Homo sapiens: one gene and its partners. The protein of the gene in region 2 purifies or fractionates together with the protein of the main gene of each other region. This does not show direct contact. Each region holds a gene or a part of one and is shown on either strand. Other genes may lie near its edges.

Region 1 (9,941 bases), on a different chromosome or scaffold from region 2:
ACTCACTCTTTCGCAGCCCCACCACTTGTGCAAGCCAAGCAGGGCCTCATGGCAGAGAAGAGGGAGGGAGAGGTAGGGATCAAAGCAGAGCAGGGAGGTCGGCAGCCTCGCAAAAATGCCAGTTCTCCAATAAAGCACCTTATGCAATTTCCCTAATGGCGGACAATCGCCAAATGCCAAGAGTTTGCTAGGCCAGCCAGTCCCCCACCGAGTGCCAAGGTGCCCAGGACACTAGCACAAAGGGTGACAAAGCCTGCCCCCAAAGTTGAGGGGTGAGGGTTCATATCCATGACAGTCCCCCAGAGGGCGTCTGACAGCTTAGCACTGTTTCCCCTGGGAGCGGGAGGCTGGCTCCTGGCCCTGTTCTGTTAGGTTGCACCAGTCCTCTACTTGGGGACAATGGGAGGGAATGACTATGTCCTTGGGGTCTAGGCCCTCACCAGCTGGGACTGGTCACCAGGGCTCCTAGCAGACATACTGGAGGCTCAGCCAGTCACCAGCTGGGGCCCGAGCCTCAGCTGCTGAGAAAGGAGATATGCTTTCCTGCCTGACTGGGACCCCCATGGGCTGTGGCTCCCCAGGGCACCAGGGCAGAAGAAAGTGCCACCTTCCTGGCCAAGACTGCCTGAGTGCTGAGGGGCAGAGCCCCAGCACCAGAGAGTAGTTGGTGTCTGGGCATAGCTGCTGGACCCTCCCTCAGCCCACAGTGGCACCCCCAGCAGCAGCTCAGATGGGGAGGGCTCCACCACGGGGAGAGGGGTGGGGAACGAGAGGAAAGGCTTGCCCAAACCCTCTCTGGAGCTCCTACCAGGGACTGATGGGAGGCCTGGTCCACAGCAGCCACAGAGTCATCCGTCGGGGGTTCCAAGTCGTCAAACGCCAGCTCGATGTTCTCCTGGGAAAGAAGGCCGAGCGGTAGTGAGCATGGGGGTCACATTGTGGGGAACAGCCTTGTGAGTAGGCTGGGAAGGGGCTCTGAGATCAGCAAGGCCAACCTCCTTCTGTGCCGTGCAGGAGCTCCCTCCATCATCCCAAATGAAACAGCTCCCAAGGAAACACACTGTATTTTTTGCACAGCTAAAATTCTCAGAACCTCTTTTTATCCGAAGCCAGAGTCACATTCTCATTACTCACATGAGTTGATTAGGCAACACAGAACAAGCCCACTCTCAATTTCACACAATCATCCTTGAAACACTTGAAGACAACTGCCATTTTCCTTCTGAATCCTCTCTCGCCCCAAATAAATATCCTGACAATTCACTCAACTCACTTCCAGATGAGGCAGGATTTCCAGTTCTCGTCCCATCCGGGACACCCTTTTACAGAAGGCACTAAATCATCACCTGGCACCCTCACAGATCAGGGAAGGGAGACGGGAAGGCCAGGCCCAGACACACTTGGAGCAGGAACCACACAGTGGCAATCACCAGGCCTGGGAGGTGCCTCAAAAGAGGCCAAGGGTAGCCTCCTGGGGGCCCTCAATGCACCTGTAGGCTTCCTGGAGAGTAAACTCTCCACCAAGTAAGAACGTAGCCAAAGCCAGAGGCCACGGACAAGGGGGCAAGGAACGACTCCTGCTCCAGAGAGCGCAGGAGGACAGAAATGGAGAGTAAGGTGATGCCTTCTGCATCCACAGATGCCCTCGCTGTGGGTGCCAAGGCCAGAATCTGAGGCTAGATGAGGCCCAGGCCCCAGAGCTACCTCCTTGTATCTTTCCAACTCCTGCACGAAGGTGCGCTCGTGGAAGAGCCTCTGCAGCCGGTCTTGGGTGTAGTTGTGGCACAGCTCCTCAAAGGAGGCTCCGCGGGCTGACCCACCCTGCTCAGGGTTCTGGAAGCCCGGGGTGTCGACAATCATCATGGAGCAGAGTGAGTGCTGGCTGGACTTGAGAGCCCTGGATAGGGACAGCCTGGGTCAGAGCCTCGCTGGTTGGCCCCGGGCACCAGGAAGCCCCACCCTGCCCAAGCCAGACCTCTATCCCTGCCCAGGACCCTGGTGGGGAGGGCATGCTGGCCTTGCTCATAGCCCATGGGACAGGGAGCCCCTGCTGGAAGAGACCGGCTCTGCCTCGGCCAACAAGGCATGAAGGCATCTACTCCACCTCTGCCAAAGCAGGAAAAGCCCTGGGTCCTGCCTGGCACTCACCTATTCACCAGGGAGACGAGAAGGGTGAAGAGCTCGCTGTAGAGGCCGGCCGCCATGCCCTCAAGGCACTCCAGTGCACTCAGTTTCGGGCCTGTGGGGCAGGGGGAGCAGCGCTATCTCCTTCTCCCCAGGGCTCCCCATCTGGGTAAGCCCCTGACCTGCCCAGGGCCCAGTCAGCACGGGGCCTGGGGCAGGGCCTCTGCCACTGACAGAGCATCTGTTCACTCCAGCAGTCCCCTCCCGCCCCAGGGATGGCAGCAAGCCCCAGATGAGGCCTCACACTCACAACTACCAGCCAAGGGACAAAGGGTACCTGTCCCATCTCCCAGGCCACTCTCCTCGGGGCCCTGGCGGAAGGAGGTGGAGCGCTGCAGGGTGCCACCCTTGTGCTGGTGCTTGAAGATGGCTGAGGACAGCTCCTCCAGGCTGCAGCCCAGTAGGTACGCAGCCTTCTGGGCCCACTCATGGCGGGCAAACTGCTTGCGCCCAGCTGTGGAGTGGAAAAAGGGATCTGGCATCCTGGGTCTTTTTCCTTAGGCCAGCTGATGACCTGATGACCAGCTGATGACTATGCATCTTCTGGAGGCAAAAGCCAGCCCTGATGACACCCGATGGGCTTCAGGCAGAACAGGGGCAGCCAGCAGTGGCCAGCATTTCCTGTGTCCCGTGGGGATGGAGAGAATGAGCAGGTCCTAAAGGAGGAGGTAACTCCACATGCTGCCACCGGAGGGCAACAAACCAGCTGCAAAAATCCCTTTTCAGATGGCTCAGCTCCGGGGATGCCCAACTAGGGGAAGGGCGGAGTCAGAGGATGAACCAGCCCACCTGGGATGGGCACAAGAACCCCGTGTGCCTGTGGGGGACTTATCTTGAGAGATCGCTCATGCCTCCACATTCCCTGAGTACATTAGAACCCTCCCTCTTGCCCCCTGGCATCTGCCAGTGGAGACCACAAACACCCACTGATGGCCCAACAGTGGGGAGGCAAAAAAGCCACAGGGGAAAGGGAACAGCCCGCACAGACATATGTGCCTCAGCCAACATGTGTCTAATCACGGCAATTAGGGAAAGCTAACAAGAAACAAGGTTTTACCTTCAGCAGCTTCTGTAAGGCAAAGGACCAGCATGCAGCATGCAAAGAAAAACAGTGTGTTAGCAAACAGTCATCAATAGAGCTCGCCGCCTCGGAGGGACCGTGGGGCGGGGGTGTTGTGAGGATGAGTAGGCAAGAAAACACAACCACAGTCAGACTTGGGACAAACGCACACACACACAGTCTCCAGGGAGTATGTTTGTGGGTGTAATCACACTGACACACACAGAAAGAGACCCGCAAAGACATTTGTGCACATGTGTGTGTGCGCAAACACACCCTCCCCCCCCCCCCCCCCCCCCGCCGGAAAACACTGGAAGCTCTGAGGCGCTAACAGACATTGTTTGAGAAGATCGCTGTGCTGACACCCGGAGCTTTCCGCTTGCAGTTGGGGCTGGGTAGGTTAGAGGAAAGCTAGGCTTGTCACCGCCTCAGAGTGAAGTAACTTCCCTCAACACACAGCCACACGCCTGCCCGCCTGTCTGTCCTCCACATTCTCGAGAAAACTTCTCTAACCTAGAGCCTGGCTCCTCCTGGGCAGGGATGCCACTTCTTGGGGTCGCTCGCATGGAGCCTCACGCCTGGGCACCCATTCCTCCATACACCCACCACCTGCCAGGACTTTCTCACTCCAGCTGAGCAGCCTGGGGCCCTTCACATCCCAGAAGGGGCCAAAGCCAAAGCCCAAGGTGCTGTTCAGCGCCAGCATCCCCTTTCCCTAAACTGGAGAAAAAGGGGGTGAAGAGGTGCTCGAATCGCCATCCTCCAACGTAAGTCATCTTGAAGGATGGAGCAGAGCTCCTCCAAGCCAGGCCAAGTCCCCGAGCGCAAGTGCCAAAGCTGCAGCCCATTCGTTACCACGGTGCCTGCTGCCCCCTAGTGGCCGCCACCCTGACATGCAAGAGGAAGATACGGAGCTACCCAACCAGTGGAGAAGGGAAGAGGACTGGGGAAAACTGGTCTGGGGAGGCCCCAGGTAGCAAGCCCACCCTACCCCACCCCACGGTGGGCATCCTGAGAGGTTCCAGGATTCAGATCTAAAACTGGCAGGAGAAGCAGCTACTCCTGGGACTCTAAGACACCCCACAGCCTGCAGGCTCCACTTCCACTCTCAACCTCCAGGCTTCTCCCCAGACCAGTCCTCTCTGCAGCAACAGAACAAGCCCAGCCCCTAGAAAGTCCTGGGCAAGCACCAAGACAGGGCACGGCGGCCCCTATACCCAAGGGCGGGGCCAAGGTCAGTTACCCGCTTGCTCCTCGGGGGCCTCTGTCAGGAAGGGAACAAGAAGGAGAGTTATTCCAGCGGGGCTGCCCTGCCTTAGTGCCCTTCTCATCCCTCAGCCTCTGAACCCCCAGCCCTCCATGCTTCCTCATGGTGCCCCCCAGCACAGCCAGCTAAGTCCAGGCCTCGGGTCGTCACTGCCAAAGATGCTTCCCGGGCCTTCTGCTCTGAAGTGGGGGGCTGAGAAGAGGCACAAGCAAAAGAGGGTTGTCTCAGAACGGCTAAGTCTGTGCTGGGCAAGAATAAACTGGGAGTGGGCAGGGTCCCTGTGAGGTCACCCAGGGGACAGGCCAGCCTACTGGGACCCACTGCAGGTTACCTTTGGTGGCTCCCGCAGCCCCCAGGTGGTAGATGGCAGCCAGAATGAACCAGCAGGCCTTCTGTTCATCGGGGGAGATGCCCAGCACCTTCATGGCCGCCTGCAGCTTACTAAACTGCTGAGCTGCCTTCTGCTTTTCCTCAGGCTGTGGAGATAGATGACCTCAAAGGGCTGTCCCTCCCAGCACACCCCCATGAGGCTGGGCCCTCAGGGCAAGGCTTGGGTAGAGCCAGCAGCTGGAGCTGGGCTCCCACTATTCCCACAGGACCCATGGAGGCTTCTCCTACCCCCAAGGCCCAGGGCTGGCAACCCAGACCCCACAGACCCCTCACCTTGGCCAGTGGCACAATCCCAAACACATTGTTCTCTGCCAAGTGGTTGAGGTGGAGCTCTGTCCTAGGGGTACAAATAAGGCATCAGCACGGCACTTGGTCCCCATGCCAAGGCCATTTCCGCCCAGGGTGGAGACAGACAGACTCAGCTTCCAGACTCCAAGTTTTGTCTGCCCATCATCCCATCATCCCCAACTGGCGGGCCAGCTGTCACTGCTTTCCTAACTGGCCTGGATGCCTGGTTAGAGTACCATTCTCCTGAGGACAAGCCACCAGACATGCCCTGGTGAGAGGATGCAACCTGGCCCCCGGAAGGGAGCAGGGAACCTGCCCGAAGGGTGAGTCCCGCCAAGGCAGAGACGATGCCCTCAGTTACAAGAAGGGCTAAAGAGGACAATGGCCTGGGGATGCTGGCTCAGCCTCATCATTTATCTCTTTTTAGTGAACACACGCGGCAAATCTGAATGTCTGAAGGGAAGAGCGTGGCAGAGGCAGCCAACGTGGGGCAGGAAGGGCTAGTCTGGAGGGCACTGGAAGAGGCATGGGCTTTTGGCCCCAGTGTGGATTCAAATACCAGTTCAGCCCCCTACCAGTCATGCGACAGTAGGCAAGTCCCCAACCACTGGTACCTCAGTGTGCTTTGCTTTCCAGAACTGGCTTCATGGGTAATGGAGATCCTAGCTAGGCCCTGGCAACACTGAAGGGCTGGCTGTTCCCCTCCAATACAGCCAGGCCCCAGTACCCAGGACCAGGGAGTTCTTGATAGGCAGGGACTATGTCTCATCCATCTCACTGTCCCTGGGGCCTAGCTCAGAGCCTAGCACATAGCAGACATGCACTGACCAAACAGTGCAGGATGCGATCAAGTGGCTTTAATTCTGGATGCAATCAAGGTCCAGGAGCCCAGTCAGTGGGCTGGAGTTCAGAGAACCCTTGTGTACCCTCTGACCCATCTCACCTGAGGGTGCCATCCCCACAGGCCAGCAGGTAGTAGAAGACGTTGAATGTGGCTTCACTGGCTGGGCGCCGAGCCACACGCAGCTTCTCCAGAAGCATTGTCTGTGACACAGCATGGACGTGTGGGTAAGGAGGGTAGTGCCAGATCAAGTTTCTCCCACCCCACATAAGAAGGAATCAAACACATGGTCCTCTAGGCCCTGGGGAACAAGCAGCTGCATTTTTTTTTTTTTTTTTTTTTAAGATTTGAGATGGAGTCTCACTCTGTCACTCAGGCTGGAGTGCAGTGGAGCGATCTTGGCTCACTGCAACTTCTGCCTCCTGGGTTTAAGCAATTCTCCTGCCTTGGCCTCCTGAGTAGCTGGGATTACAGGCATGCACCACCATACCCGGCTGATTTTTGTGTTTTTAGTAGAGATGGGGTTTTGCCATGTTGGCCAGGCTGTTCTTGAGCTCCTGACCTCAGGTGATCCACCCACCTCAGCCTCCCGAAGTGCTGGGATTACAGGCGTGAGCCACCGCACCCAACCTGCATCTTGTTTTTTAAGTCTTTTTTTTTTAAGATAGGGTCTCGCTCTGTTGCCCAGGCTGGAGTGCAGTGGCGCAATCACAGCTCGCTGCAGCCTTAACCTCCCAGGTTCAAGTGACCCTCCCATTTCAGCCTCCCAAGTAGCTGGGACCACAGGCGTGCACTACCACATCTGGCTCAATTAAGCAGGTGCATCTTATTCCCAAGGTGCTCAATCAGATACCAGATCCCTCTAGGATCAAATGGGGGACAGAAACCAGAATGAGGTGGAAGAAGACAGGCCCAGCTCCCAAAGGGGCCCTGCTGCTCTGCCCAGACCCCAGGTGCCTGCCTTCTGGAAATGGGAGCTTGTGGTGAGGTATTTAGCATGGGAGGGAATCAGCCTTGGCTGGGCCTTACTTTACTGACAAGCCAGTCCTCTGCTAGGTGAAATCGGCCCGAGAGAAGCCCCGAGCATGAATCTCAGAAAGTGGGAAGTAAGGCTGAGGCCCAGCAGTAGAGTTAGGACAACCCCAGGGTTGGGAGAGTGAAGGGAACTGGGCAGAAAGCTGGACTGGCCCCATCCAGGGCAGGAGGCCCTGAGGGCAGAATGGTGATGCCTCTGGATAGTGCAGGCCAACCCTGCCCATGCCTGGGTCAATTTTGTTAGGGTAGAATCCCAGGAAAATGAGGCATGGGAGAGAGCCTGATGTCTAGGTCATGAAATCATGTGGCCTGTGTCCTACTACCCCGAGTCCTGGGCAGCACTCTCACCTGAATGGAGGCTGAGGCCACCTGGCCAGCTTGGTCAAAGTCCAGGGAGAGGATCTGGGAGAAGCGGGTGGCATTGCCATTAATGATGGTGGGGCTGTTCCCAAAGGCTTCCAGGAGGGTGTACAGAGCCTGCCACTTCTCCACTGCAGAATACAGGCCCAAGGGGATATCAGGAAAGCCAGGGGCAGCTTATCCCCCAGCTAGGAGCTACCCCAGAGGTATGAAGGCTTGGGGCCATTCAGACCAGAACTGCCCGTGGACAGAGGGGTTTCGGGGGGATGGAAAGGCCAGGGAGAAAAAGAGCTGGCACTTAAGAGGGTGCTCTCTCCTCACTCCCCTCCCCTCACCCCACTTTCAGTTTTCTCCCTTGTCCCTGCCTCACCAGAAAACACCTTGTTCCCGCTGATGCCCGCGATGGTGGCCAGGTACTGCACCAGATGCTGGCAGCTGGTGGTCTTGCCACTGCCACTACTGCCCAGGAGGATGATTGACTGATCCTGACGGCTCATCAGCATCGCCCTGTATGCGGTCTGGGCCACTGCATAGATGTGGGGTGCCATGTCCTCCCGCCGACAACCCTTGAACATGTGCATCACCTTGGGCAGGAGAGCAAGGGAGAGAAGGGGTTGGCTCTTAGCTGATCCCATTAAGACACCCCTCACCCCCAAGGTCCACATCTTTCTGGATTTTCCCTCCTGTAGTGCCCAGGGATTCCAAGGCCAAGGCCATGCATGGAAATGAAGACACTAAGTCCTGGACTCCATCAAAGGTTGTGGGGAGGTCCTGTCCCCCATCTCTTGAAATGACTCCTCTTCCCAAGGTCAACTGTGAGAGTGGACAGGAGCCCAGTGGGGTGCCACAGGGGAAGGGCAGAGAGCCAGGGCAGGGGGTGGGACCAGGAGTCTGCAGGGTAGCCTTGAGGGTGCTGCACCTTCTCAGAGTACACAGCAGGGGCCCCACGGGGGCCAAGAACCAGCAGGCTGGGGCCAGCATACGTGTGCAGCAGGCTAGCGCCATAGCGCTGGCGCAAGGTGTGCAGGACGCTGGACTCATTGAGGTACACCAGTGAGGCCAGATCCTCCAGACGGTCGCAGGAGGGAGCATTAGCCTGTGTGGGAGGACAGGCGGGTGGGTATTAGAGCAGCAGAGCCCATCTCCGCTGCCAGAGGATGGGCCTGCCCTGCCCAGTGCACTCCTGAGCCTCCTCCCCCACACCCAGCCCCCTGCCCACCTACCTTCTCAACGTCATCCTCATCCACATCCAGGATGGCCCCATCGTGGTCCAGCTTCACACGCACCTTCCCCTCAGGCAAGTTGAGCTCCTCAGATTTGAGTTGACTGGCTGCAGGGGAGGGACAGACAGCTGGGATGGGCCTGGGAAGCCTCTGCTACTCCACTTGGGAACTTCTCGGTCCTATCCTCCCCCCCACTGCATCACCAGCCTCTCCTTGCTCACTGCTCAGCCCTCACCAGATGCAGAAGGCACATTCGCTGCCCAGCCCTGAGACCAGTGAGTCCTGACATGTGCCCCCAGACCCTCTGAGACTCACCCAGTGAGAAGCCGTCCCTATGGACCAGCCACACCTTCTCCGTCTCATTCCAGGCCTCTTCTGCTGCAATCTGTTCTTCTGTTTTCGCCTGTCAGAGAGAGAGAAGAATAAACAGGCCCTGCTATGGAAGACAGGGACAAGGACAGCCGTAGAGGGGAGACAAGTGAGGGCATGGGCTTTGAGACAAGCCACTGGGCAAGGAATGAGTTAGGTGACAGACACAGAACACAGGGACATCAGAGGTGTCTGGGAAAGAGGGTGGGGAAGCTAGGAGGCAAGGGTGGCTCTAAGGAGCCCTGAGGACAGGACACAAAGGCTAGAGACCGTACCATCAGTGAGGGTCTGGCAAGACAGGGACACAGGGATCTTGTGCCCAGGAAAGAGGAGACCCCAGGAAAGCAAATCACCAGGTTCTCCCTCAGCCACCCTCTGCTCCTCCACCCTGTCAAGCCCAGGAGATCAGTGTCCTGAGTCCAAGGCCCTAGACCCTAGCCACAGCTACTAGGATCTTCCGTGCCCAGCTTCTCCCTTCATCCAAATGATAGGGCCTCCTTTGCCAAGCTGGGAGAGGGCATGTCCTCAGATCTCAGCGGGGAGTCGCCTGGACTTCGCAGTACAGAATGATAGGTGGGCTCAGAGCCCTGGCCTCAGCCCTGGCCCTCCCCTCCAGAGGGTGCTCTACCCGGACCGGGGGACAGTGCCCAGGTGCACACATCAGCCTCCCTGCTCCTTCTCCATGCCGCCATCAGCAAAGACCCCTGTCACACAGACCTAGTGGACACGCTAATGCCATACAAAGGCACGAGGCAGTGCGGCCAGAGATATGGGGGTAGGGGCAGCCCTGCCCTGTCAAACACAGGGAGAGGCTTACACGTTATACAGATGGGCACAGGAGTGGTGTAAAGGGGCTAGAAGCCCCCAGAGGCCTCAGGAGGTCACCAACTCAGACATAAGCATTCATAGGTACTGACGGTGTGG
Region 2 (10,736 bases):
AGCGAACGTCAGGGAGTTTCGGGTCCAACCCACCCGTAAGGGTCGGGTCTACAGGAAAGTCCTGCTGCCACTCTAGCGGAGGGTCCGCGGTCTGCAGCCCAGCGACCCCCCTTTCCTCCTAGGATCCCCTGGGACCAAAGCCCACCCCAACTTCACATGTTGAGTGCGCCTGACCCAGAGGCCCCGGGCTCCCTGCTGGCCTTAGGACCCCTGCCTGGCCTCACTCACCCTCCACGGTCCCCCAGGAGTAGCGGCGTCCCCTCACCGGCCGGTTCCCGCCATCCCTCACCACCTCGCATGATCCCACGACTGCAAAAGGGATGCTTTCCTGGAGGGCAGGGGGCAGGGGTTCACCATTGGCTCACACGGCAGAAACTTTCTCTTTCCCAGCTTCAATCTCCACACCCGCCTCCTCTGCTTCCTGCCCCTTCCTCTTTTTTTTTTTTTTTTTTTTTTTTTTGAGACAGGGTCTCACTCCATTGCCCAGGCTGGAGTGTTCAAGTGATTCTCCTGCCTCAGCCTCCCGAGTAGCTGGAATTACAGGCGCCCACCATCACACCTGGCAAATTTGTGTATTTTTAGTAGAGGTGGGGTCTCGCCATGTTGCCCAGGCTGGTCTGGAACTCCTGACCTCAGGGGATCCTCCCGTCTCAGCCTCCCAAAGTGCTGGGATTACAGACGTGAGCCACCGTGCCCGGCCTGCCTTCCTTCTTTGTTTCCCACACCTTCATCTCTGCATCCTGCCTCTTGAAGTCTTCATCTTCATCAGAGTCACATTCGGGGAACTGGTAGATGTGGATCTCCTCTTCCTTCAACTGATCCCGGATCTCAGGGGAAACAGATATAGAGACAGTGTGAAACGGGCCACAATGACAGACATTTCATGACCAGAGACAGTGAGACACAGAGATACTGGGTGGTCAGAGACAGAGAGAAAGACATGAAAGACAGAGATGGGGAGAGATGGACATACAGGAAGACAAAAACAAAATCTCAGAGACATAGATGGTGAGAAACACAAGATTCTAAGATGGGGCAGACATTAAGAGACCAGGAGAAGCCTGGGCAATATAGCTAGATCCCATCTCTACAACAAATATACACATATATTTTGAAACAAGGTTTCACTCTATCACCCAGGCTGGAGTCCAGTGGCTCCATCTTGGTTCACTGCAGCCTCAACCTCTCAGGCTCAGGTGATCCTCCCATCTCAGCCTCCTGAGTAACTGGGACTACAAGTGCACACCACCACACCTGGCTGGTTTTTGTACTTTTTGTAGAGATGGGGTTTTACCATGTTGCCGTGGCTTGTCTTAAACTCTTCAGCTCAAGCAGTCCACTGACCTCAGCCTCCCAAAGTGCTGGGATTAACAGGTGTCTGCCACCAAGCCCAGCCAAAAAAATATTTTTTAAGTTAGCCAGGCATGGTGGTGTTCATCTATAGTCCCTGCTACTCAAGAGGCTGAGGCAGGAGGATCACTTGCGCCTACAAGTTCGAGGCTGCAGTGAGCTCTGATCTTGCCACTGTACTGCAGCCTGGGCCACAGAGTGAGACTCTATCTAAAAAAAAAAAGAGAGAGAAAGAGAGGCCGAGAGAGATATAAGCAGAAACAGTGGGAAAGGGCTCTGAAGACACGGGGTGGGGGCCAGAGGGAAGTCACTATGTTCTCATGTCTATGCTCCTGCCCTCAAATAGGCCTCAGCCAGGCATCTAGCCCGGGGGCTGCATATGTAGCCTATTTTGAGCCTTCAGAGACATGGCTATGCTGGCGGCTTACCACCCGCCTTCCTCAGAAGCTTCTCCTACAATCTAGCCTGATGCACCATGCTCCAGAAAGGCCACTTCAAGATCAAAGAAGTCTAAGCTGAAATCAGGTTTGGCTTCACATGGGGTCAAAGGTCAGAGGTCATCACTCACACCTTCTGCTTGAGGGCCTGGGTTTCCTGGGGCATCAGAGCATCCGCTTTGCCAATGACTGGGATGATGTTGACTTTCTCGTGTACTGCCCGGAGGAAGGCCACATCTAGGGGCCGGAGCCTGCACCCAGGGATTGGTCATTGCCCAGCCTCAGGGGGCAGAGACCCCCCAGCCCTCCCTAAATGCGCCAGCCCCCAGGATCCCCCCACCAGACCCCCGGCCGAAGGGTGAGATGAAGTAGAGGCAGCAGTGGACTCGGGAGTCCTGGATGTTCTTCCGGTTCAGGCCACTCTCATCCCTAAGGTACTGCTCAAATTGCTCCTCGATGAATTTCACCACCGGAAGCCAGCTGGGTGTGGGGAGAGGATGTGAGGTCAGAGATCAAAGGCCAGAGGGCAGGGGGCAAGGCTAGCCAGGACTGTGGGAGTAGAATGTCATTTCTTTGGCTCCCTCCAAAGACATTAAGGGGAACTGGTGGGGGCCTAGGTGAGTCATCAAGAAGCACAGGGACCCAGTGGCCCTCTGAAACAGACACCACCTTTTGAGATAGGGAGCCAGCACAAACCAGTCCTGTAACTCTCCAGGGAGTCGCCACTGTGAAAGGCTGAGCCTCTGTCCCCTTTCCTCTTCCTCACCAGTCAGAGCAGTCCACTGAGTCCCCAAAGCCAGGTGTGTCCACAAGGGTCAGCTTCACTTTCACACCCCCTTCCTCAATCTCTACGCCCCGGCGCTCAATGGCCAGGGTCTGTGTCAAGCGAGCTGTGGGATGGGGGAGAGGTCAGGGATCCGGGGAGGCTCTGAGGCAGAATTAATTTCCTTTGTCAATATCACAGTTGCCTGCACCCATTTCCCAGGGGAGGAAAGTCTCAGAAAAAAAGCAGTCAACTACCTGAGTCCCCAGATGGAAAAGACTAGGGTGTAACCTGGGGACAGGGGCTACTGCCTCAAGAGGGTGGGGAGGGTCTTACCACTGGCCTCTGGCACCTGGCGATCCTCATAGAGGTTGGTGAGGAAGAGGCTGTTGATGAGGGTGGATTTCCCTAGGCCTGACTCCCCTGTGGACAGAACAGGCCCAACTGGTCAGGGGAGGGGACAGCCAGGGCCTCCTAAGGACATCCCCTCCGCAGTTCCCTCTCCAAAACCCCCAGACCTGCCACCATTAGCGTGAAGTCAAACCCCTTCTTGACAGACTTGCGGTGCAGCTGGTTGGGGAGGGCAGCAAAACCCACGTACTCCTTGTCCTATGGATGGGGGTGGACAATATGAGGCTGCTGGCAATGGCAGGCAGGGTCCCCAGGATCACTTGAGTTCCTGGGCTAGGAAGAGTCAGTGGGGTCTGGGGACCCCAGGCATGGGGGCTGGGGGCCGAGATGCCCAGGTTTCTGGGTGTAAGGACTCACCATGACTCCGCCAGCCATCACTGCACCTGCCGTCTCTCCCCACTTCCTCTGGTGGGGCAGGAAGCTGAGTGCGGCTAACAAGGGGGCGGGCAGAAGAGGCAGCTGAGATGCTCAAACTGGCCCAGTCCCAGAGAGGTGGGGAAGGCCAAGGCCAAGAACACTTGGGGTTGCCACCTCCTGGACCCCTTTGCCCATCACCTGTCTACGTACCTTCAACCCTCCATCCTTCACACATCTGGATTCCAAGTCCCACTGTAGCTCCATCATCGTGGTGAGACATGGGGTATGTGCAGAGAGGAAGGAAGTGGCTCCCTTTGTTAGCAGGGGAGATGAAGGTTTTGATGAGCTGATTAGAAAACAGTTCCCAGGACGGGCAAGGTGGCTCTCGCCTGTAATCTCAGCACTTTGGGAGGCGGAGGAGGGAGGACAGCTTGAGCCAAGGAGTTCCAGACCAGCCTGGGCAACAGAGGGACGTGCCCCTCTACCATCTCTACAAAACATTAAAAAATTAGCCAGGCATGTTGGTACAATCCTGTAGTCCCAGCTACTGGGGAGGCTGAGGTGGGAGGATTGCATGAGCCCAGAAGATCAAGACTGCAGTGAGCTGTGATCACACCACTACACTCCAGCCTGAGCAACACAGCAAAACCCTGTTTCTTTTTCTTTCTTTCTTTCTTTTTTTGAGACGGAGTCTCGCTCTGTTGCCCAGGCTGGAGTGTAGTGGCGCCATCTCGGCTCACTGCAAGCTCCACCTCCCGGGTTCCCGCCATTCTCCTGCCTCAGCCTCCCGAGTAGCTGGGACTACAGGCACCTGCTACCGCGCCTGGCTAATTTTTTTGTGTTTTTAGTAGAGACGAGATTTCACCGTGTTAGCCAGGATGGTTTCGATCTCCTGACCTCGTGATCTGCCCGCCTCGGCCTCCCAAACTGCTGGGATTACGGGCGTGAGCCACCATGCCAGGCCAACGCTGTTTCAAAAAAAGAAAAAGAAAAAAGTGGACCAGAAGCCATGATGGGATTGGGAGTGGGTGAAGCCATACATTTTCCAGCTCAGACAATGGATTCATAAAAGGACTCCAGGTCTTTGGACACCACTGCCCGAGAGATTTTCCTTCAGAATCCTGGCCAAAGAACTCCACTGCTCAAAATCCTTCAGGAACTCCCCAGTAACTCAGAGTCAAGTCTGAATTCTGGCCTGACTGCCAAAGCCTCCCTCAGCTGGCCTCATCACCCCATCTCTCACTCTTCCAAACGTCCTTGGCTCTCTACCCACATTGAGCTTTTCCTTTTTCTGAATCAGTTAAACTCTTCCTCATCCTTCAAGTGTTTCTTTCCAAGGGCTCTGCCTCTATGCAATCTCTCCACCTACCCTAGGCAGGGTCATTGTCCCTCCTTCAGATTCCCAGCACCTGGCTGGCGTGGTGGCTCACACCTGTAATCCCAGCACTTTGGGAGGCCGAGGCGGGTGGATCACTTGAGGCCAGGAGTTCAAGACCAGCCTGGCCAACATGGCGAGACCCTGTCTAGCAAAAATACAAAAATTAGCCAGGCATGGTGGTGCGTACCTATAATTCCAGCTACTTGGGAATCTGAGGCAAGAGAATTGCTTGAGCCCAGGAGGTGGAGGTTGCAGTGAGCCGAGATTGCACCGCTACACTCCATCCTGGGCAACAGAGCAAGACCCTATCTCAAACAAACAAACAAACAAACAAATCTACCTCAGGACCGCTGCGGTGGCTCACACCTGTAATCCCAGCACTTTGGGAGGCTGAGTCGGGCAGATCACGAGGTCAAGAGATTGAGACCATCCTGGCCAACATGGTGAAACCCCATCTCTACTAAAAATACAAAAAATTAGCTGGGCATGGTGGCATTGCCTGTAGTCCCAGCTACTCAGGAGGCTAAAGCAGAATTGCTTGAACCCAGGAGGTGGAGGTTGCAGCGAGCCAAGATCGTGCCACTGCACTCCAGCCTGGTGACAGAGCAAGACTCCGTCTCAAAAAACAAAAAACAAACAAACAAAAATGCTACTTAATACCATCTAGGGACTGTTAAGAATCTGGAAAGGGGGGCTGGGTGCGGTGGCTCATGCCTGTAATTCCAGCATTTTGGGAGGACAGGGCAGTCGGATCACTTGAGGCCAGGAGTTCGAGACCAGCCTGGCCAACATGGTGAAACCCCCGTCTCTACTAAGAATACAAAAATTAGCCAGGCATGGTGGTGCACGCCTGTAATCACAGCTACTAGGGAGGCTGAGGCAGGAGAATTGCTAGAACCTGAGAGGCGTAGGTTGCAGTGAGCCAAGATCCTGCCACTGCACTCCAGCCTGGGCGACAGGGCAAGACTCCGTCTCAAAAAAATAAATAAGTAGGCCAGGCGCGGTGGCTCATGCCTGTAATCCCAGCACTTTGGGAGGCTGAGTCAGGCAGATCACCTGTGGTCAGGAGTTCGAGACCAGCCTGAGCAACATGGAGAAACCCTGACTCTACTAAAAATACAAAATTAGCAGGGCGTGATGGCGCATGCCTGTAATCCCAGCTACACGGGAGCTGAAGCAGGAGAATCACTTGAACCTGGGAGGTGAAGTTTGCGGTGAGCTGAGATTGTGCCATTGCACTCCAATCTGGGCAACAAGAGCAAAACTCTTTCTCAAATAATAATAATAATAATAATAATAATAATAATAATAATAATAATATAAATAAATAAATAAGCAAAGGGCAGGGATCATGTTACCTCTCAGCACTCCACCACCGGCCTTCCTCCTGCATCTCTCACCAGGTTGAGCATCTCTATGGTCTTAGTTAAAATTCTGAAATCAGCCGGGTGTGGTGGTTCACGCCTGTAATCCCAGGACTTGGGGAGGCCAAGGCAGGCAGATCAGAAGGTCAGGAGATCGAGACCATCCTGGCCAACATGGTGAAACCCCGTCTCTACTAAAAATACAAAAATTAGTTGGATGTGGTGGCGCGTGCCTGTAATCCCAGCTACTTGGGAGGCTGAGGCACAAGAATCACTTGAACCCAGGAGGCGCAGGTTGCAGTGAGCCAAGATCACACCACTGCACTCCAGCCTGGCGACAGAGCAAGACTCTGTCTCAAAAAAAAGGAAAAAAAACTTTCTGAACTCCTCCCACTCTCACTCCCCACAAGTGTTTCCAGTGAGTTTCCAATTCCCACCTATCCTTCAGAAAAATTGGTCCCCTTTTCTTCACACTCTCCATGCCATTAACCTGCTTTGGGTTCAGACCCTGATCAACTCTTCTCTGAGTTATTCAACAGCCTTTGACAGAATAACATGTTTAAAGGAAAAAAAAAAATGTTGGGCGTGGTGGTTCACGCCTGTAATCCCAGTGCTTTGGGAGGCTGAGGTGGGAGGATTGCTTGAGGCTAGGAGTTCAAGACCAGTCTGGTCAACATAGCAAGACCCGATCTGTATTAAAAAAATAAATAAAAAAGAGGATAACATGTAGGCCAGGCAGTGGCTCATGTCTGTAATCTCAGCACTTTGGGAGGCCGAGGTGGGAGGATCACTTGAGGCCAGGAGTTTGAGACCAGCCTGAGCAACACAGTGAGATCCTGTCTTTACAAATTAAAAAAAAAAAATTAGCTGGGCATCGTGGTGCACAATTGTTGCCCCAGCTAGTTGGGAGGTTGAGGCAGGAGGATCACTTGAGCCCAGGAATTTGAGGCTGCAATGAGTCATTGTGGTGTCACTACACTTTAGCATGGGTGACAGAGCGAGACCCTGTCTCAAAAAAAATACAAAATTTAGGATGATATATATTTATCTGTTTATTGTACAACCAACACATGTTTTCATAGAAAAATTATAAAATGCAATTGAAATATAAACATTTAAATGTGGGCCGGGAGTGGTGGCTCATGCCTGTAATCCCAGCACTTTGGGAGGCTGAGGCAGGAGGATGGCTTAAGCTCAGGAATTCGAGACCAGCCTGGGGAACATGGTGAAACCCCATGTCTACAAAAAATACAAAAATTAGCTGGGCATGGTGGCATGCACCTGTGGTCCCAGCTACTCAGAAGGCTGAGGTGGGAGGATCGTCCAGTCTGTGTGACAGAGCCAGACCCTACCTCGAAAAAAATATATTTTTTAATGTGATATCACCATTTTTTTTTTCTTGAGATGGAGTTTCGCCCTTGTAGTTTCGCTCTTGTTGTCCAAGCTGGAGTGCAATGGTGTGATCTCGGCTCACTGCAACCTCTGCCTCCCGGGTTCAAGTGATTTTCCTGCCTCAGCCTCCCGAGTAGCTAGGATTACAGGCATGTGCCACCACGCCCAGGTAATTTTGTATTTTTAGTAGAGATGGGGTTTCACCATGTTGGTCAGGCTGGTCTTGAACTTCCGGCATCCCAAAGTGCTGGGATTACAGGTATGAGCCACTGCACCTGGCCTTTTTTTTTTTTTTTTTTTTTGAGACAGAGTCTTGCTCTGTCACTCAGGCCGGAGTGCAGTGGCACGATCTTGGCTCACTGCAAGCTCTGCCTCCAGGGTTCACGCCATTCTCCTGCCTCAGCCTCCCGAATAGCTGGGACTACAGGTGCCCACCACCATGCCTGGCTAATTTTTTTGTATTTTTAGTAGAGACAGGGTTTCACCGTGTTAGCCAGGATGGTCTCGATCTCCTGACCTTGTGATCCGCCCGCCTTGGCCTCCCAAAGTGCTGGGATTACAGGCGTGAGCCACCGCGCCCGGCCTTTTTTTTTTTTTTTTAAAGACAGTGTTTCGGCGGGGCGCCATGGCTCACTCCTGTAATCCCAGCACTTTGGGAGGCCTAGGTGGGCGGTTCACCTGATGTCGGGAGTTCAAGGCCAGCCTGGCCAACATGTTGAAATCCTGTCTCTACTAAAAATACAAAAATTAGCCAGGCATGGTGGCGCATGCCTGTAATCCCAGATATTCGGGAGGCTGAGGCAGGAGAATCACTTGAACCCGGGAGGCAGAGGTTGCAGTGAGTGGAGATCGCACCATCGCACTCCAGCCTGGGGGACAAGAGTGAGACTTCCTCTCCAAAACAAAACAAAACCAAAAAAAGACAGAGTTTTCCTCGTCACCCAGGCTGGAGTACAATGGCGCGATCTCGGCTCACTGCAACCTCTGCCTCCTGGGTTCAAGTGATTCTCCTGCCTCAGCCTCCCGACTAGCTGTGATTACAGATGCCTGCCATCATACCTGACTAATTTTTGTATTTTTAGTAGAGACAGGGTTTCACCATGTTGTCCAGGCTGATCTTGAACTTCTGACCTCAGGTGCTCTGCCCACCTTGGCCTCCCAATCACTATCTTTCTATAACCCAATTTTAGTATTTATCCTTCTCGTACGCCTATATATATGTATACACACTGTTTATATTTATAAAAATAGGGTCACATTATAACTTTGGAAACATGCTTTTGTTGCTTCATGTGTTCTCTACATCTTTTTTTTTTTCTTTTTTGGAGAGGGAGTTTTTCTCTTGTTGCCCAGGCTAGAGTGCAATGGCGCGATCTCGGCTCACCACAACCTCCGCCTCCTGAGTTCAAGCGATTCTCCTACCTCAGCCTCCCAAGTAGCTGGGATTGATTACAGGCATGCACCACCACGCTTGGCTAATTTTTTTTGTATTTTTAGTAGAGATGGGGTTTCTCAGTGTTGGTCAGGCTGGTCTCGAATTCCCAATCTCAGGTGATCCACCCACCTCAGCCTCCCAAAGTGCTAGGATTACAGGTGTGAGCCACCACGCCAGGCCTGTTCTCTACATCTTTCTATGATACATGCACATGTACATTATCTGTTTTTGTTTTAGTTTTTGTGTTTGTTTTAGCTGGGACTACAGGTGTTCACCACCATACCCAGTTAAGCTTTTTGATTTTTAGTAAAGACAAGATCTTGCTATGTTGCCCTGGCTGGTCTTGAACTCCTGAACTCACACAATCCTCCCTTCTTGGTCTCCCAAAGTCCTGGGATTACAGCCACTGCACCCGGCCCAGGAAGTTATATATTTTAAGCATTTGTACATATTAATGCCAGGCCAGGTGCAGTGGCAATAGGGCGAGACCTTGTCTCAAAAAAAACAACCACAGTCCAGGCGCGGTGGCTCACGCCTGTAATCCCAGCACTTTGGGAGATCAACGTGGGTGGATCACCTAAGGTCAGGAGTTCAAGACCAGCCTGGCCAACATGGCGACACCCCATCTCTACTAAAAAAAAAATACAAAAATTAGCCGGGCGTGGTGCCGCACACCAGTAATCTCAGCTACTCAGGAGGCTGAGGCAGGAGAATTGCTTGAACTCAGGATGCAGAGGTTGCAGTGAGCCGAGACTGCGCCACTGCACTCCAGCCTGGGCGACGGAGTAAGACTCTATCTCAAAAGAAAATTAAAAATAAAAATAAATAAAAATAAAAACAAAAACAACAACAAAAAGAAAACAACCCTGCAAAAAAGGCTCTTGTGGCCGGGTGTGGTGGCTCACGCCTGTAATCCCAGCACTTTGGGAAGCTGAGGCAGGCGGATCATGAGATCAGGAGTTCGAGACTAGCCTGGCCAACAAAGTGAAACTCTGTCTCTACTAAAAATACAAAAATTGGCTGGGCACAGTGGCTCATGCCTGTAATTCCAGCACTTTGGGAGGCTGAGGCGGGCGGATCACGAGGTCAGGAGATCGAGATCATCCTGGCTGACACGGTGAAACCCCTCTCTACTAAGAATACAAAAAATTAGCTGGGCGTGGTAGTGGGCCCTGTAGTCCCAGCTACTCGGGAGGCTGAGGCAGGAGAATGGCGTGAACCCGGGAGGTGTAGCTTGCAGTGAGCCGAGATTGTGCTACTGCACTCCAGCCTAGGCAACAGAGCGAGACTCCATCTCAAAAAAAAAAAAAAAATAATAATAATACAAAAATTAGCTGGGCATGGTGGTGCGCGCCTGTAATCCCAGCTACTTGGGAGGCTGAGGCAGAAGAATTGCTTGAACCTGGGAGGCAGAGGTTGTGGTGAGCCGAGATCGTGCCACTGCACTCCAGCCTGGGCAACAGAGTGAGACTCTGTCTCAAAAAAAAAAAAAAAAAGGCTCTTGCTTGGTCATTGTGTTAAATGTAGAGTTTATATGAATTAACAGTGACACCATAGTCCATTTCCATGCTTATTAATTCCAACTAATTATGGCGAATCATTCATATGATATTTGGGGCTTGTTTGCTTTGACAAAGGAAGGCAGTACCTTGAGTTTCATATAGGGCAGTGTGTGGTGGACAGCTCTCTTCCCATTTAGTAATTATTTAGTCATTTGGATTAGTTTTTTTTTTTTTTTTTTTTTTTTTTTTTTTTTTTTTAGAAACAGGGTCTTGTTCTGTTGCCCAGGCTGGAATGTAGTAGTGCGATCATAGGTTATTGCAGTCTTGAACACCTGGGCTCACTTCTG
Region 3 (9,941 bases), on a different chromosome or scaffold from region 2:
GACTGAATTTCTATGAGTCCATGTAATAGTGTCAGGAAATACTCCAGAAGGATAAGCACTAAACCAAACGTATACCCAGTTACATCCACACAGAGGCAGATGGACAAGGATTAGGGGTTAGTCAAAGGGGACTTTGGCTTTATTTGTATAATTTAACTGAAGATTTGCTTCATTTGAAAGAGACAATATTCATGTATTACTTGAATAACAGAACTTTTAGTAACTTTTTTTAAAGTAAGGCTGGCAGAAGTGAAAAGCAACAGGACTAGGTGGAATAAACATTGTGAGCCCTCATCTTGGTCTTAATGTTATGAAGCCCTGCATAGAATTTTAACCGTTCTGACTTTACACCCACCTTTTACTTTTTACAGATCTTTTTCCTGGCGTTCCACTTCTATTTCCCTTTCATCAACTTCAGAACTGAAGTTTTTGTGTTGTAAGGTGAAATGACATGGAAGACAAGCTACAAAGTAGGCACAGGCCAGAGAATTTCTGGGTTCTGACAATGGTCAACTATTTCAGGCACATAGTTCCCATTTCAGGGCCCCTGGGCCATGTGGCTACTCCTAGTCTCAGTGTTAGCATGCCTTGCAATCAGTCCATCCTGTTAGCCTTTGTATTCATATATTCACATTATTCACATGACCCTCATAAGAATTCTAGAACTTCCAACATTTTTCTGCACCTCAAAATGCAAGGAAGTTTGGCTAGTTTTGTAACAAAGTGCACCTTAGGAAGGAAACTAAATCACTTCTAATGAGCAATTAAAGCCCTAGAATGGCATGTATGTAATTTGAGTCCCCAACCAAGCTGCTTTCAACCATAATTTACAGAGATAATGTGGGTATACATGATCAAATATATAAAAAACCCATCTCTAGGAAAATAAAGTAGGCTGAAATTCAACTGGAGAAAGTAGTTTTGGACAATCATTGGTTTAAAAACCATGGGAATGAACAGTTTTTCAAAGCAAAAACATTAATATGTCAAATATAGTTTCCAATTGCACATATTTATACAAAATTAGATCTCAGATAACCAATCTTCTTATAGTATACCTACAAACTATGTACAGTTTCTGGAAAAAACAAGTGCTCTAAAATAACAAAGGAAAGCATCTGAAACAAAAAGATAAGGATAGGGTATCATTAGGCCATGATGTTTAAAGGACTGGTGCTCGGTCTATACGCTTAAGCAATAATCAACAGGGGAAACTTGTGCAATTCTCTAATTATGGGCATACCACAGCCACTTCTGCTTCTGAAACAAAAGCAGCTGGACAACCTGAAGAAAGGTAGCTTAGCTGAAATAACCTGGGCAAACCTGGCTGTACAGACACTACAGTTTCAGGGAAAAGAATCCATTCATAAAACTGATCTTTTAAACAATCTGGTTTTAAACAAAAAGGCACACTTATAGCAAATCTTCACAAAGGAGAGAGAATAATATGTTGAGTATTAACAGAAGAGAAGCATTAAAAATTACAAATAGACACATTTTAAACTAAACATCATTTATGTTTCTCCATGGGGAAAAAGATTTGCTTCTACAAAACTCACCTCCGTGTTCTAGAAAAACCCGAACACATCTTTCCTTTCCTCTTGCTGCAGAGAAATGAAGCAGAGTCCAGCCATTCGCATCTCGGCCATTCGGGGAATAGCCTTGTTCTAGCATCTTTCGCACTGTGTGGACATCCCCAGCAGCCACCGCGGCCTGAATCTGCAACTCTTCCTGGAGCTCAGGGTTCCTTCGACAATGATGGTGTAACATCCTAGCTGAGTCCACTTTTTACAAAGGATTCATTAGGTTACGGGGATCAGCCTTTAAGAAGAGAAGGTAGAAAAGGTAAAATTTAGAATAACTGGTTCCTGATACTGCATCTATTAAATATCACAGAACATTCCATTTGCTACATCAGTAAACCTTACTAATGACAGTGCATACTACTAGCTGGGTGTGGTGGTGCAAGCCTATAGTCCCAGCAACTCAGGAGGCTGAGGTGGGAGGATCACCTGAGCCCAGGGGATCAGTCCCAGCTACTTGGGAGGCTGAGGTGGGAGGACGACCTGAACCCAGGAGATCAAAGCGGCAGTGAGCCATGATAGCAACACTGCACTCCAGCCTGGACCACAGGGCAAGACCCCATCTCAAAAAAAAAAAAAAAAAAGTAGCAATATATTTTAAAACCTTAAGAATCTAAACAATCAGGCCAAGCACAGTGGCTCACGCCTACAGTCTTAGCACTTTGGGAGGCCAAGGCAGGCAGATCACTTGAGGCCAGGAGTTTGAGACCAGCCTGGCCAACATAGTGAAACCCTGTCTCTACCAAAAATACAAAAATTAGCCGGGTGTGGTGGCACATGTCTGTAATCCCAGCTATTTGGGTGGCTGAGGCACAAGAATTGCTTGAACCCGGGAGGTGGAGGTTTCATTGAGCTGAGATTGCGCCACTGCACTCCAGCCTGGGCAAGAGAGTGAAATTCTGTCTCAAAAAAAAAAAAAGAATCGAAACAATCTGGTGATTAACCACATGATCAAATTACTAAAAGGAAAAGTAGTACAGTGAATTCTCATACTCTCTAATAGGTCACAAAAAAGGACTGTACTAAAACCCAACATACAATGAAATATCTGGCCAGGCACAGTGGCTCACGTTTGTAATCCCAGCACTTTGGGAGGCCAAGGAAAAAGGGACCACTTGAGCCCAGGAGTTCAAGACCAACCTGGACAACACAGTGAGACCCTGTCTCTACAAAAAAATACAAAATTAAAAAATTAGCCAGGCATGGTAGTGTGCACCTGTAGTCCCAGCTACTCGGCAGGTAGAAGCAGGAGGATCACTTGAGCTTGGGAGGTTGAGGCTGCAGTGAGCTGTGATTGTGCCACTGCACTCCAGCCTGGGATACAGAGCAAGACCCTGTCTCAAAAATTAAAATAAGAAAGTAAAATGAGACCTCCTTCATGGAAACAGTAACAGTCCAAAGTGAAATGGTAAAAAGTTGCATCTTACATGTGTGTATACAAAAACATTTTTAGTGTGTTTTTAAGCTTTTAACTACATACAGAAAACTAACAAGCTTCCAGAAAGCCACTCCAGGTGTGCTAACTGGAAGGAATAGATTAGACTCATCTCTTAACTAGTAGTCCCTTTGTTTCTAAACATTTTTTAAACTGTGATGAAGCCCTTTAAAGACATTTCTGTTCTCATATGTAGGTTAGACATATCAGGATAATCTTGCTACCAACAATCGTTTATCTTGCAAAACTTACTATAGACTGTACAAAAGTAAACTTAGGCCTAGGTTAAGTCAAATCATTACAACTTAAGAATACAAATATCCTATGTTGTTTTATACATAGAAAATGGTGTCATTACCTACTCCTAAGTATCACAACTAAGTGCTCAAATTTAAAAATATCAAGCTACTTCTACAAATAGCTATTTCCTCAGAGAAATATGGGAATAAACAAGATTGCCTCTTTTTTTTTTTTGAGACGGAGTCTTGCTCTGTCACCCAGGTTGGAGTGCAGTGGCGCGATCTGAGCTCACTGCAACCTCCACCTCCCGGGTTCACACCTTTCTCCTGCCTCAGCCTCCCAAGTAGCTGGGACTACAGGCGCCTGCCACCACGCCCGGCTAATTTTTTTGTATTTTTAGTAGAGACGGGGTTTCACCGTGTTAGCCAGGATGGTCTCGATCTCCTGACCTCGTGATCCACCAGCCTCGGCCTCCCAAAGTGCTAGGATTACAGGCGTGAGCCACTGCGCCCGGCCACAAGATTGCCTCTTATTTCTTCTCTCAATTCCTTCACAAAAATTGTCCCTTCTTAGAAATTTTAAAATGAGAATCCTTTCAGAATAGGTTTTTGCTTATTCTGTTATGAGAGAAAATGCTGAAGACCGTCTGAAGGAATTAATGGAAACATACTATGCTCACAATCATCCTTAACAGCTTTTCTTTTTAATTAAGTGATTATGTTGGCACTTAAACGAGGCCTACCATGCAAGAAAAAGACTGAAACAATATCAAAACAAACCTGGGTTTTCTTTAGTGAGTGGTGTATTTAGTATACATTAACTGATTTAAGAGAGAAGTAAAAGTTAAGTGAGCTTTCCCCCGGAACAACACAGATGACCAATGACCCTGAGGCAACTTGCCTTATGGAAGAGTGTCCCTTCTCCTGATGTACGGATTGCCTAGTAACCATTGTGCACGTACAGCATCGTGGGGAGGGGCTTCAAAGTACGTCCAGGCTACAGAGCAAAAAAGCCTTCTTAACCTAGAAACAAATAAAAATAACAATCATAGGAAAATTCCTTAAAATAATAATCATAGCTGTCTGCATAGTCTACCTTTTGATGAATGTAAACTTCAGTGCTTTACAATAAATCTATAGAGCAGAGAAAGAACTCAGATCAACTCTTACAGAAAATAATCTTGTTACATATGTTCATCTCCAATAAATACTATTTAGTTTCAGGCTTTTCCCCCCAAAATGCAGCTATTTGAGAAAGAGCAAATAAAAAAAATAATAAATCACATATTTGGAATTTGGATGCAAGCATAGATTCTTCATTTTCCTCTATTGAGAATACAGTTTCAGACTTGCTTTATCTGAATTACTTTTTAACCGACACCATAAGTCACCTGCACTTTCTAAACAGGACTTAAATGAGAATACGTGTGCATGAAATATAATAGGTGGCCTGGGTTAAAATAAAATCTATGACAACTAAAAGGAGACTGTGTCTTTAAATGCATTTTCTTCATGTGCCCTAAAGGCATCAAGTCAATCACTTTGAAATTGTTATTCCTTTATGCATACACCGAACTAGATAAAACATTAACAACAGCCTTGCCAGGTTCCCCATGTGAATTCTGAATAAACTCTCTCCACAACTAAAAGAAAAGGGATCTTTCTTCGTGTCAATTAAATTCCAGCTCTGTTAATTCCAACAAAGTTAAGGACACAAAGTGACTTCCACATAAAACTCTAGGAATTACATATTGGGAGAACTACTACCTCATCCCCTGACGGTGGGTGAGCATCACTTAAACCTTCAGACAAGAAAAGGTCGGGCCACTTAGCAACCTGGCCCGCAGCAGTTGTATGTCCTGCTGGCTGCACACCAGAATTTTCAACCAATCCAAATTGGTATAGTCCACTTCTCTCTTTTCCTCTATTCTCATCTACTTTTCCTTGACAAACCTCTTCAAGGAAGGTAAAGAGTTTGCCAACTTGCCCTTGGAAATAAAATTTGTTTTAAAATTCTATTATTATTTCTAAATAAATGAGGCCGACGAGATCAGAACAACTCCTACAAAGCAAGCTGTGAAACATGCAAAGCGATCCTTATACAAATGGCCGATTCTAAGACTGGAACATCACACGGTGCCAGAAAGCAAGGAGGTGCTCAAAGAAAGACACCACGGTGGGGGAGGTCAAAGGGACACAGGAGCCAACTGAAAGATCCCTCAATAGCCAAAGAGGGAATAACTGCAGCAATACTTAAAACAGTACCAGATGACAAAGTACAAAGTGGATATCAAGAGTTCACATTGATACAAATAACTGATTCGATAAATAAAGGGGGAGAAACACATCTGTTGTTCAGAATTCCAAATAATTTGTATAGGTAGTCTCTCCTCAAGGTGGTGACAAACATGTTAATATAAGATGTTAGTAGGAGAAACTGAGTATCGAGCATGTAGGAACTCTGCACAGCCTCAGTAATTGTTCTGTAAATCCAAAGCTTTCCTACAATAAAGTTTATTTTAAAATGCAAATCAGTGTCCCCAGTGATGAGCCTCACACATTGCCACAAATGAATATGCCACCACTTTTCACGAGCTACATCTACATTTCAAGAGTGAACATCACTGGACATCTCACTTCCAAGTGTGTCCTCAGCACCCCTTACTTCCCATAAGAAGTAAACATGACCCAACATAGCTTCAAGCCTGAAGAATCCTTGTGGTTGTTGCTGGCTTCCAACTATCCACCGCCACTTCCATGGAGGCAGCTGGAAGTGTCAGGGAAGACGGCATGAGAGCTGAGCAGAATAGGAAATGGTGTTAATTTATTAACAATATCAAGAAAAGGCCTGGTGGTAAAAGATGAAGTGGCCAAACTATTTCTCCCAACAAGAAAGATTCACAGGTGGTAGCAACTTGTGCTAATTCCATATGAGCTCCTTCAGTCAAACAAACAAATGTCTACAGAATGCTTGACACTTAACGTGGCACAGTGATAGGGTTTGGCCACAGGTAGCACCTCCAGGTGGTATTCCAATAGAGTTCTGCATACTTAAAATGAATTTTTTAAAATCCCAGACATTTTAAGATTATTTTTCTCTTTTCTGAAAATACCAAGTGCTATAAACAATAACCACAGGTTTAAACCAAAAAAGTACTCCCTGCATGTACTAGTGCATCAACGTTTACCAGAAAAAAACATACACACACGTCATGCACACATGATCCCTGTCAGCTACACTGCTTTGAATTACGACAGAAAATAATTTATTACAAAAGACCCCCAAATAGTCAAAAGCATCAACAAGTAATTTCCTCCTGGTGTTACTTTATGAGAGCTGCGCCTGACAGAGTCGAGTCACGTGTATAAATGAAGAAAAGACTATGGAGCTGAAAAGCAAACACAATATCTAGTGGTAAATATGTCTATTAAAAAACAACAGAGGAAGTCCAGAGATGAGAATGGAAGAAAGCCTATTTTCCCTCAGGGAGTTTATTAAAAAACTGATAGCTCATGGAAGTCACCTATAAAAAGAAAAGGAATATAGCAAAGGAAGTAATTTTCTTTTTTTTTTTTTTGAGACGGAGGCTCGCTCTATTGCCAGGCTGGAGTGCAGTGGTGCGATCTCGGCTCACTGCAACCTCTGCCTTCAGGGTTCAAGCGATTCTCCTGCCTCAGCCTCCTAAGTAGCTGGGACTACAGGAGCGTGCCACCACACCCGGCTAATTCATGTATTTTTAGTAGAGACGAGGTTTCACCATGTTAGTCAGGATGATCTCGATCTCTTGACCTTGTGATCCGCCCGCCTCGGCCTCCCAAAGTGCTAGGATTACAGGTGTGAGCCACCGCGCCCGGCCAGGAGGTAATTTTGTAAGTTATGTATGTTTAGTTATGTTTTTGTGGACTCAGGAGCTACTGATACTCTGAGGGTATGATCTTCAGAAATTTTATTCTAGCTTTCACAGTCACAAGGAAAAAAAAAGCAAACAAACAAGGAAGACTTTCTTTTCCACTTGGGGTCAAAAGAAAAGAATCTAGGCTTCCAAGCTTTAATACTATTGACCATATTAAAAACTACTAATTTAGAAATTCAAGTACATTACCATCTAATTTCCATATAGATGCCAAGTGAAGTTCATTTAGTTAAACCCAAAACTTCTTGCTTCACATAGTTAAGTCTATATGATAGAACAGCGTGAAGAATAAAATAAACATAAAACAAAATATGCTTAAGACCTGTCCGAAGTTACAAAACCTTCACCAAATTTGACCATATTTCCCAAATCTCCTTTGGCATAAATGATTAGACATTAATGACTTTTTGCATATTATTATCATTAAAAGTCCACACATTTCTGATTAAGTGATGCAAACTGAACTGTGCTTTCTGATGTCACATAAACTTAGCAACAAGATAATGGCTTATTACTCAAAGAAAGAAATAAGCATTTCTTTGCAAAGTAAACAAAAATACATGCTGGTAAGAAAATAAATGCAATCAGCAACTCCGACGACATTGGGTCTGAGAAAAAAAAAACAATCCTTCAATGGTTCACATTCACAAGATCTAAGAGGGAAGATGGATGGAAAAACACTACACGGCCGTACCAAAACGGAGAACATGGCTGAGATGCCTGTTCACAAGCTCTACTGATATGATCAGGAGCCTGGAACCCAAAATAAGGTATAAGTGTTATTTTAGTGTCACTCAACAAAGTATAGCATAGTGGTTATGATCCAAAACAAATAAAGGTATTAGTATTTCCTCCAAATTACTGGGCCTCCATATAACATAAGGATTTATTACCATGCACAACTTATCCATGACCCACATAAATTCCAGCAGAGAAACCAATAATTTTCATGAAGTGTGGATGAAGCAACAGAAGAAATTTTGGACTTATCCAGACCCAACTCAAAGCTTAAATCACAAGTATTATAATGATGAGGTCCTGTCAATATTATCTTATTAACCTAGGTCTGCCAACACCATCTTTGTAGCCTCATGTGTCAATTCCTAGAAAGTTTGCAAGAAAGGAGACAATCATCCTACGTAGGGAGGGCATTCAGGGGATTATGATGTGGAAGGCTGAAAGTCAGGTAACAGATATGCCCATATAAATCATATCTGGCTTTAGACTTTTTAGGGATGGTGTGTATCTCTATGTCACCAAAGTTAAACGTGAACAAATTAAAGAGATACTGTATGTGTCATAGTATTAACTAATTGTAAATGACATCACTTTATGTGTAAAGAATGTAAGTACTGGCCACAGTATACTAAAGATGCATCATTGCATATCTTCAATTAAAATCAATTATTCTCCCTACGTGATTATAAATCTATATTTGGTGACGAAATAAATTGGATTTTTTTTAAGCCACATGATTGGCAATAGAATTAATACAAAGCTAACTGCCAGGTTAAAAAATGTAAGCTACCTAACTAGCCATGTTGGTAAATAAATACCCAAATTAAATATTCTAAATGCCTGGTATAATCTAGACCAAATACTCTCAGTCATTCTGATATTAGAAACATGACAGATGTTGACAATTTACACATATTCCCTAATCTTAGAAAAACTATTAAAAAATGAGATGATCCATGAAATACGATTTAAGCAATGAGAATGAACTGGCTGAGAGCCAGAGTAAAGACTTATCCTCTCTTACCTTATGTGCTGGACTAGCCACAGACTCCTTCCCTTTACCATCTCAGGTGAAACTACTCTTTAGAAATGAAAGCGTCCTAGAGTTACATGTAAAGCTGAAAAAATATTTAACTGAGAGGCTTGAATACAAAACACAGTACTTCATTTTGATCTTTAGAACATACTTCAAATATTTTAGCATTTTTTAAAAGTTCTGAAGTAATCATTAGGCCATCTCCCTGACAACTTCCATACTTACATAATAAAAATTAGCCTTTAAAGATTTCCGGGTAGCTTTTACTGAAATGATGTAGTCTAGTACTCCTGATTCCCTACATATACATACAAAAGCTGCCCTAAGTTTTCAACAGGGAACAGTCATTGGTAGATACTGATTCTAAATCCTATTCCCTAGAATCTCTTCTTTTGGCATGCAGTTCCATGTCTCAAGAATATGCATACCTCAGATCCCCTTAAAAGCTATGTCTTTATCTCTTTAGCTATGTCTTAAGAATTAACAGAATCAGTAAAGATACTAATTTCTTTTTGTGGAGGGCAGAAAGTCCAGTGGAACATAGGAAATCAAAAATATTAACTTCTGCTATTTTAAGCACTTCCTTGTAACAAAAATTCCCTAAACAATTTGGGATATTAAAATAACTCAGATTAACAAGTCACTTTATACTTTTGCTACTGGATGTTAAAAAAGTCATCCATTTGGCTAATTTTGGAATTAAACCTTGTATAATTTCCATGCTTATATCCCCCCTTTAGGAATTACACTAATGTCCTAAGTTTACTTTCAGAGCATTTTCAGAAGCAGCAACAAAATATGGCAGCAGAAATGTGATCACATGAATTAGATGCTTAAATTTCAATCCAGCAAACTCTACGTAAAAGTTTTAAAATGAGAAATCTTTTTTATAGAGTGCTAAAATTAAGACCCAGATATGTAAACACACCAAAAGGTTCCTTTGTTTTTAAATTCCTGAGTCAAACGATTAATAAGATATTGTGCAAATTTTTAAAA

What was found.
Region 1: the proteins of SEPTIN1 (region 2) and MYO18A purify together in Homo sapiens (affinity purification with mass spectrometry; 3 studies listed by BioGRID and IntAct, with this or other methods). This does not show direct contact.
Region 3: the proteins of SEPTIN1 (region 2) and ASB7 purify together in Homo sapiens (affinity purification with mass spectrometry; 3 studies listed by BioGRID and IntAct, with this or other methods). This does not show direct contact.

Annotation. Positions count from the first base shown.
Region 1 is NC_000017.11:29,113,203-29,123,143, forward strand, and holds part of MYO18A (unconventional myosin-XVIIIa), read right to left. Parts: intron 9,052-9,941; coding exon 8,964-9,051; intron 8,756-8,963; coding exon 8,649-8,755; intron 8,522-8,648; coding exon 8,345-8,521; intron 8,010-8,344; coding exon 7,796-8,009; intron 7,557-7,795; coding exon 7,414-7,556; intron 6,234-7,413; coding exon 6,133-6,233; intron 5,239-6,132; coding exon 5,175-5,238; intron 4,988-5,174; coding exon 4,843-4,987; intron 4,509-4,842; coding exon of another isoform or gene 4,488-4,508; intron 3,254-4,487; coding exon 3,242-3,253; intron 2,639-3,241; coding exon 2,462-2,638; intron 2,240-2,461; coding exon 2,149-2,239; intron 1,898-2,148; coding exon 1,705-1,897; intron 896-1,704; coding exon 809-895; intron 1-808.
Region 2 is NC_000016.10:30,379,207-30,389,942, forward strand, and holds the start of SEPTIN1 (septin-1), read right to left. Parts: upstream 3,356-10,736; 5' UTR 3,337-3,355; coding exon 3,319-3,336; intron 3,160-3,318; coding exon 3,069-3,159; intron 2,974-3,068; coding exon 2,887-2,973; intron 2,678-2,886; coding exon 2,554-2,677; intron 2,268-2,553; coding exon 2,133-2,267; intron 2,039-2,132; coding exon 1,921-2,038; intron 828-1,920; coding exon 726-827; intron 329-725; coding exon 229-328; intron 1-228. UniProt on the Homo sapiens protein: Filament-forming cytoskeletal GTPase. May play a role in cytokinesis.
Region 3 is NC_000015.10:100,604,046-100,613,986, reverse strand, and holds part of ASB7 (ankyrin repeat and SOCS box protein 7), read right to left. Parts: intron 4,281-9,941; 5' UTR 4,159-4,280; intron 1,822-4,158; 5' UTR 1,771-1,821; coding exon 1,560-1,770; intron 1-1,559. UniProt on the Homo sapiens protein: Probable substrate-recognition component of a SCF-like ECS (Elongin-Cullin-SOCS-box protein) E3 ubiquitin-protein ligase complex which mediates the ubiquitination and subsequent proteasomal degradation of target proteins.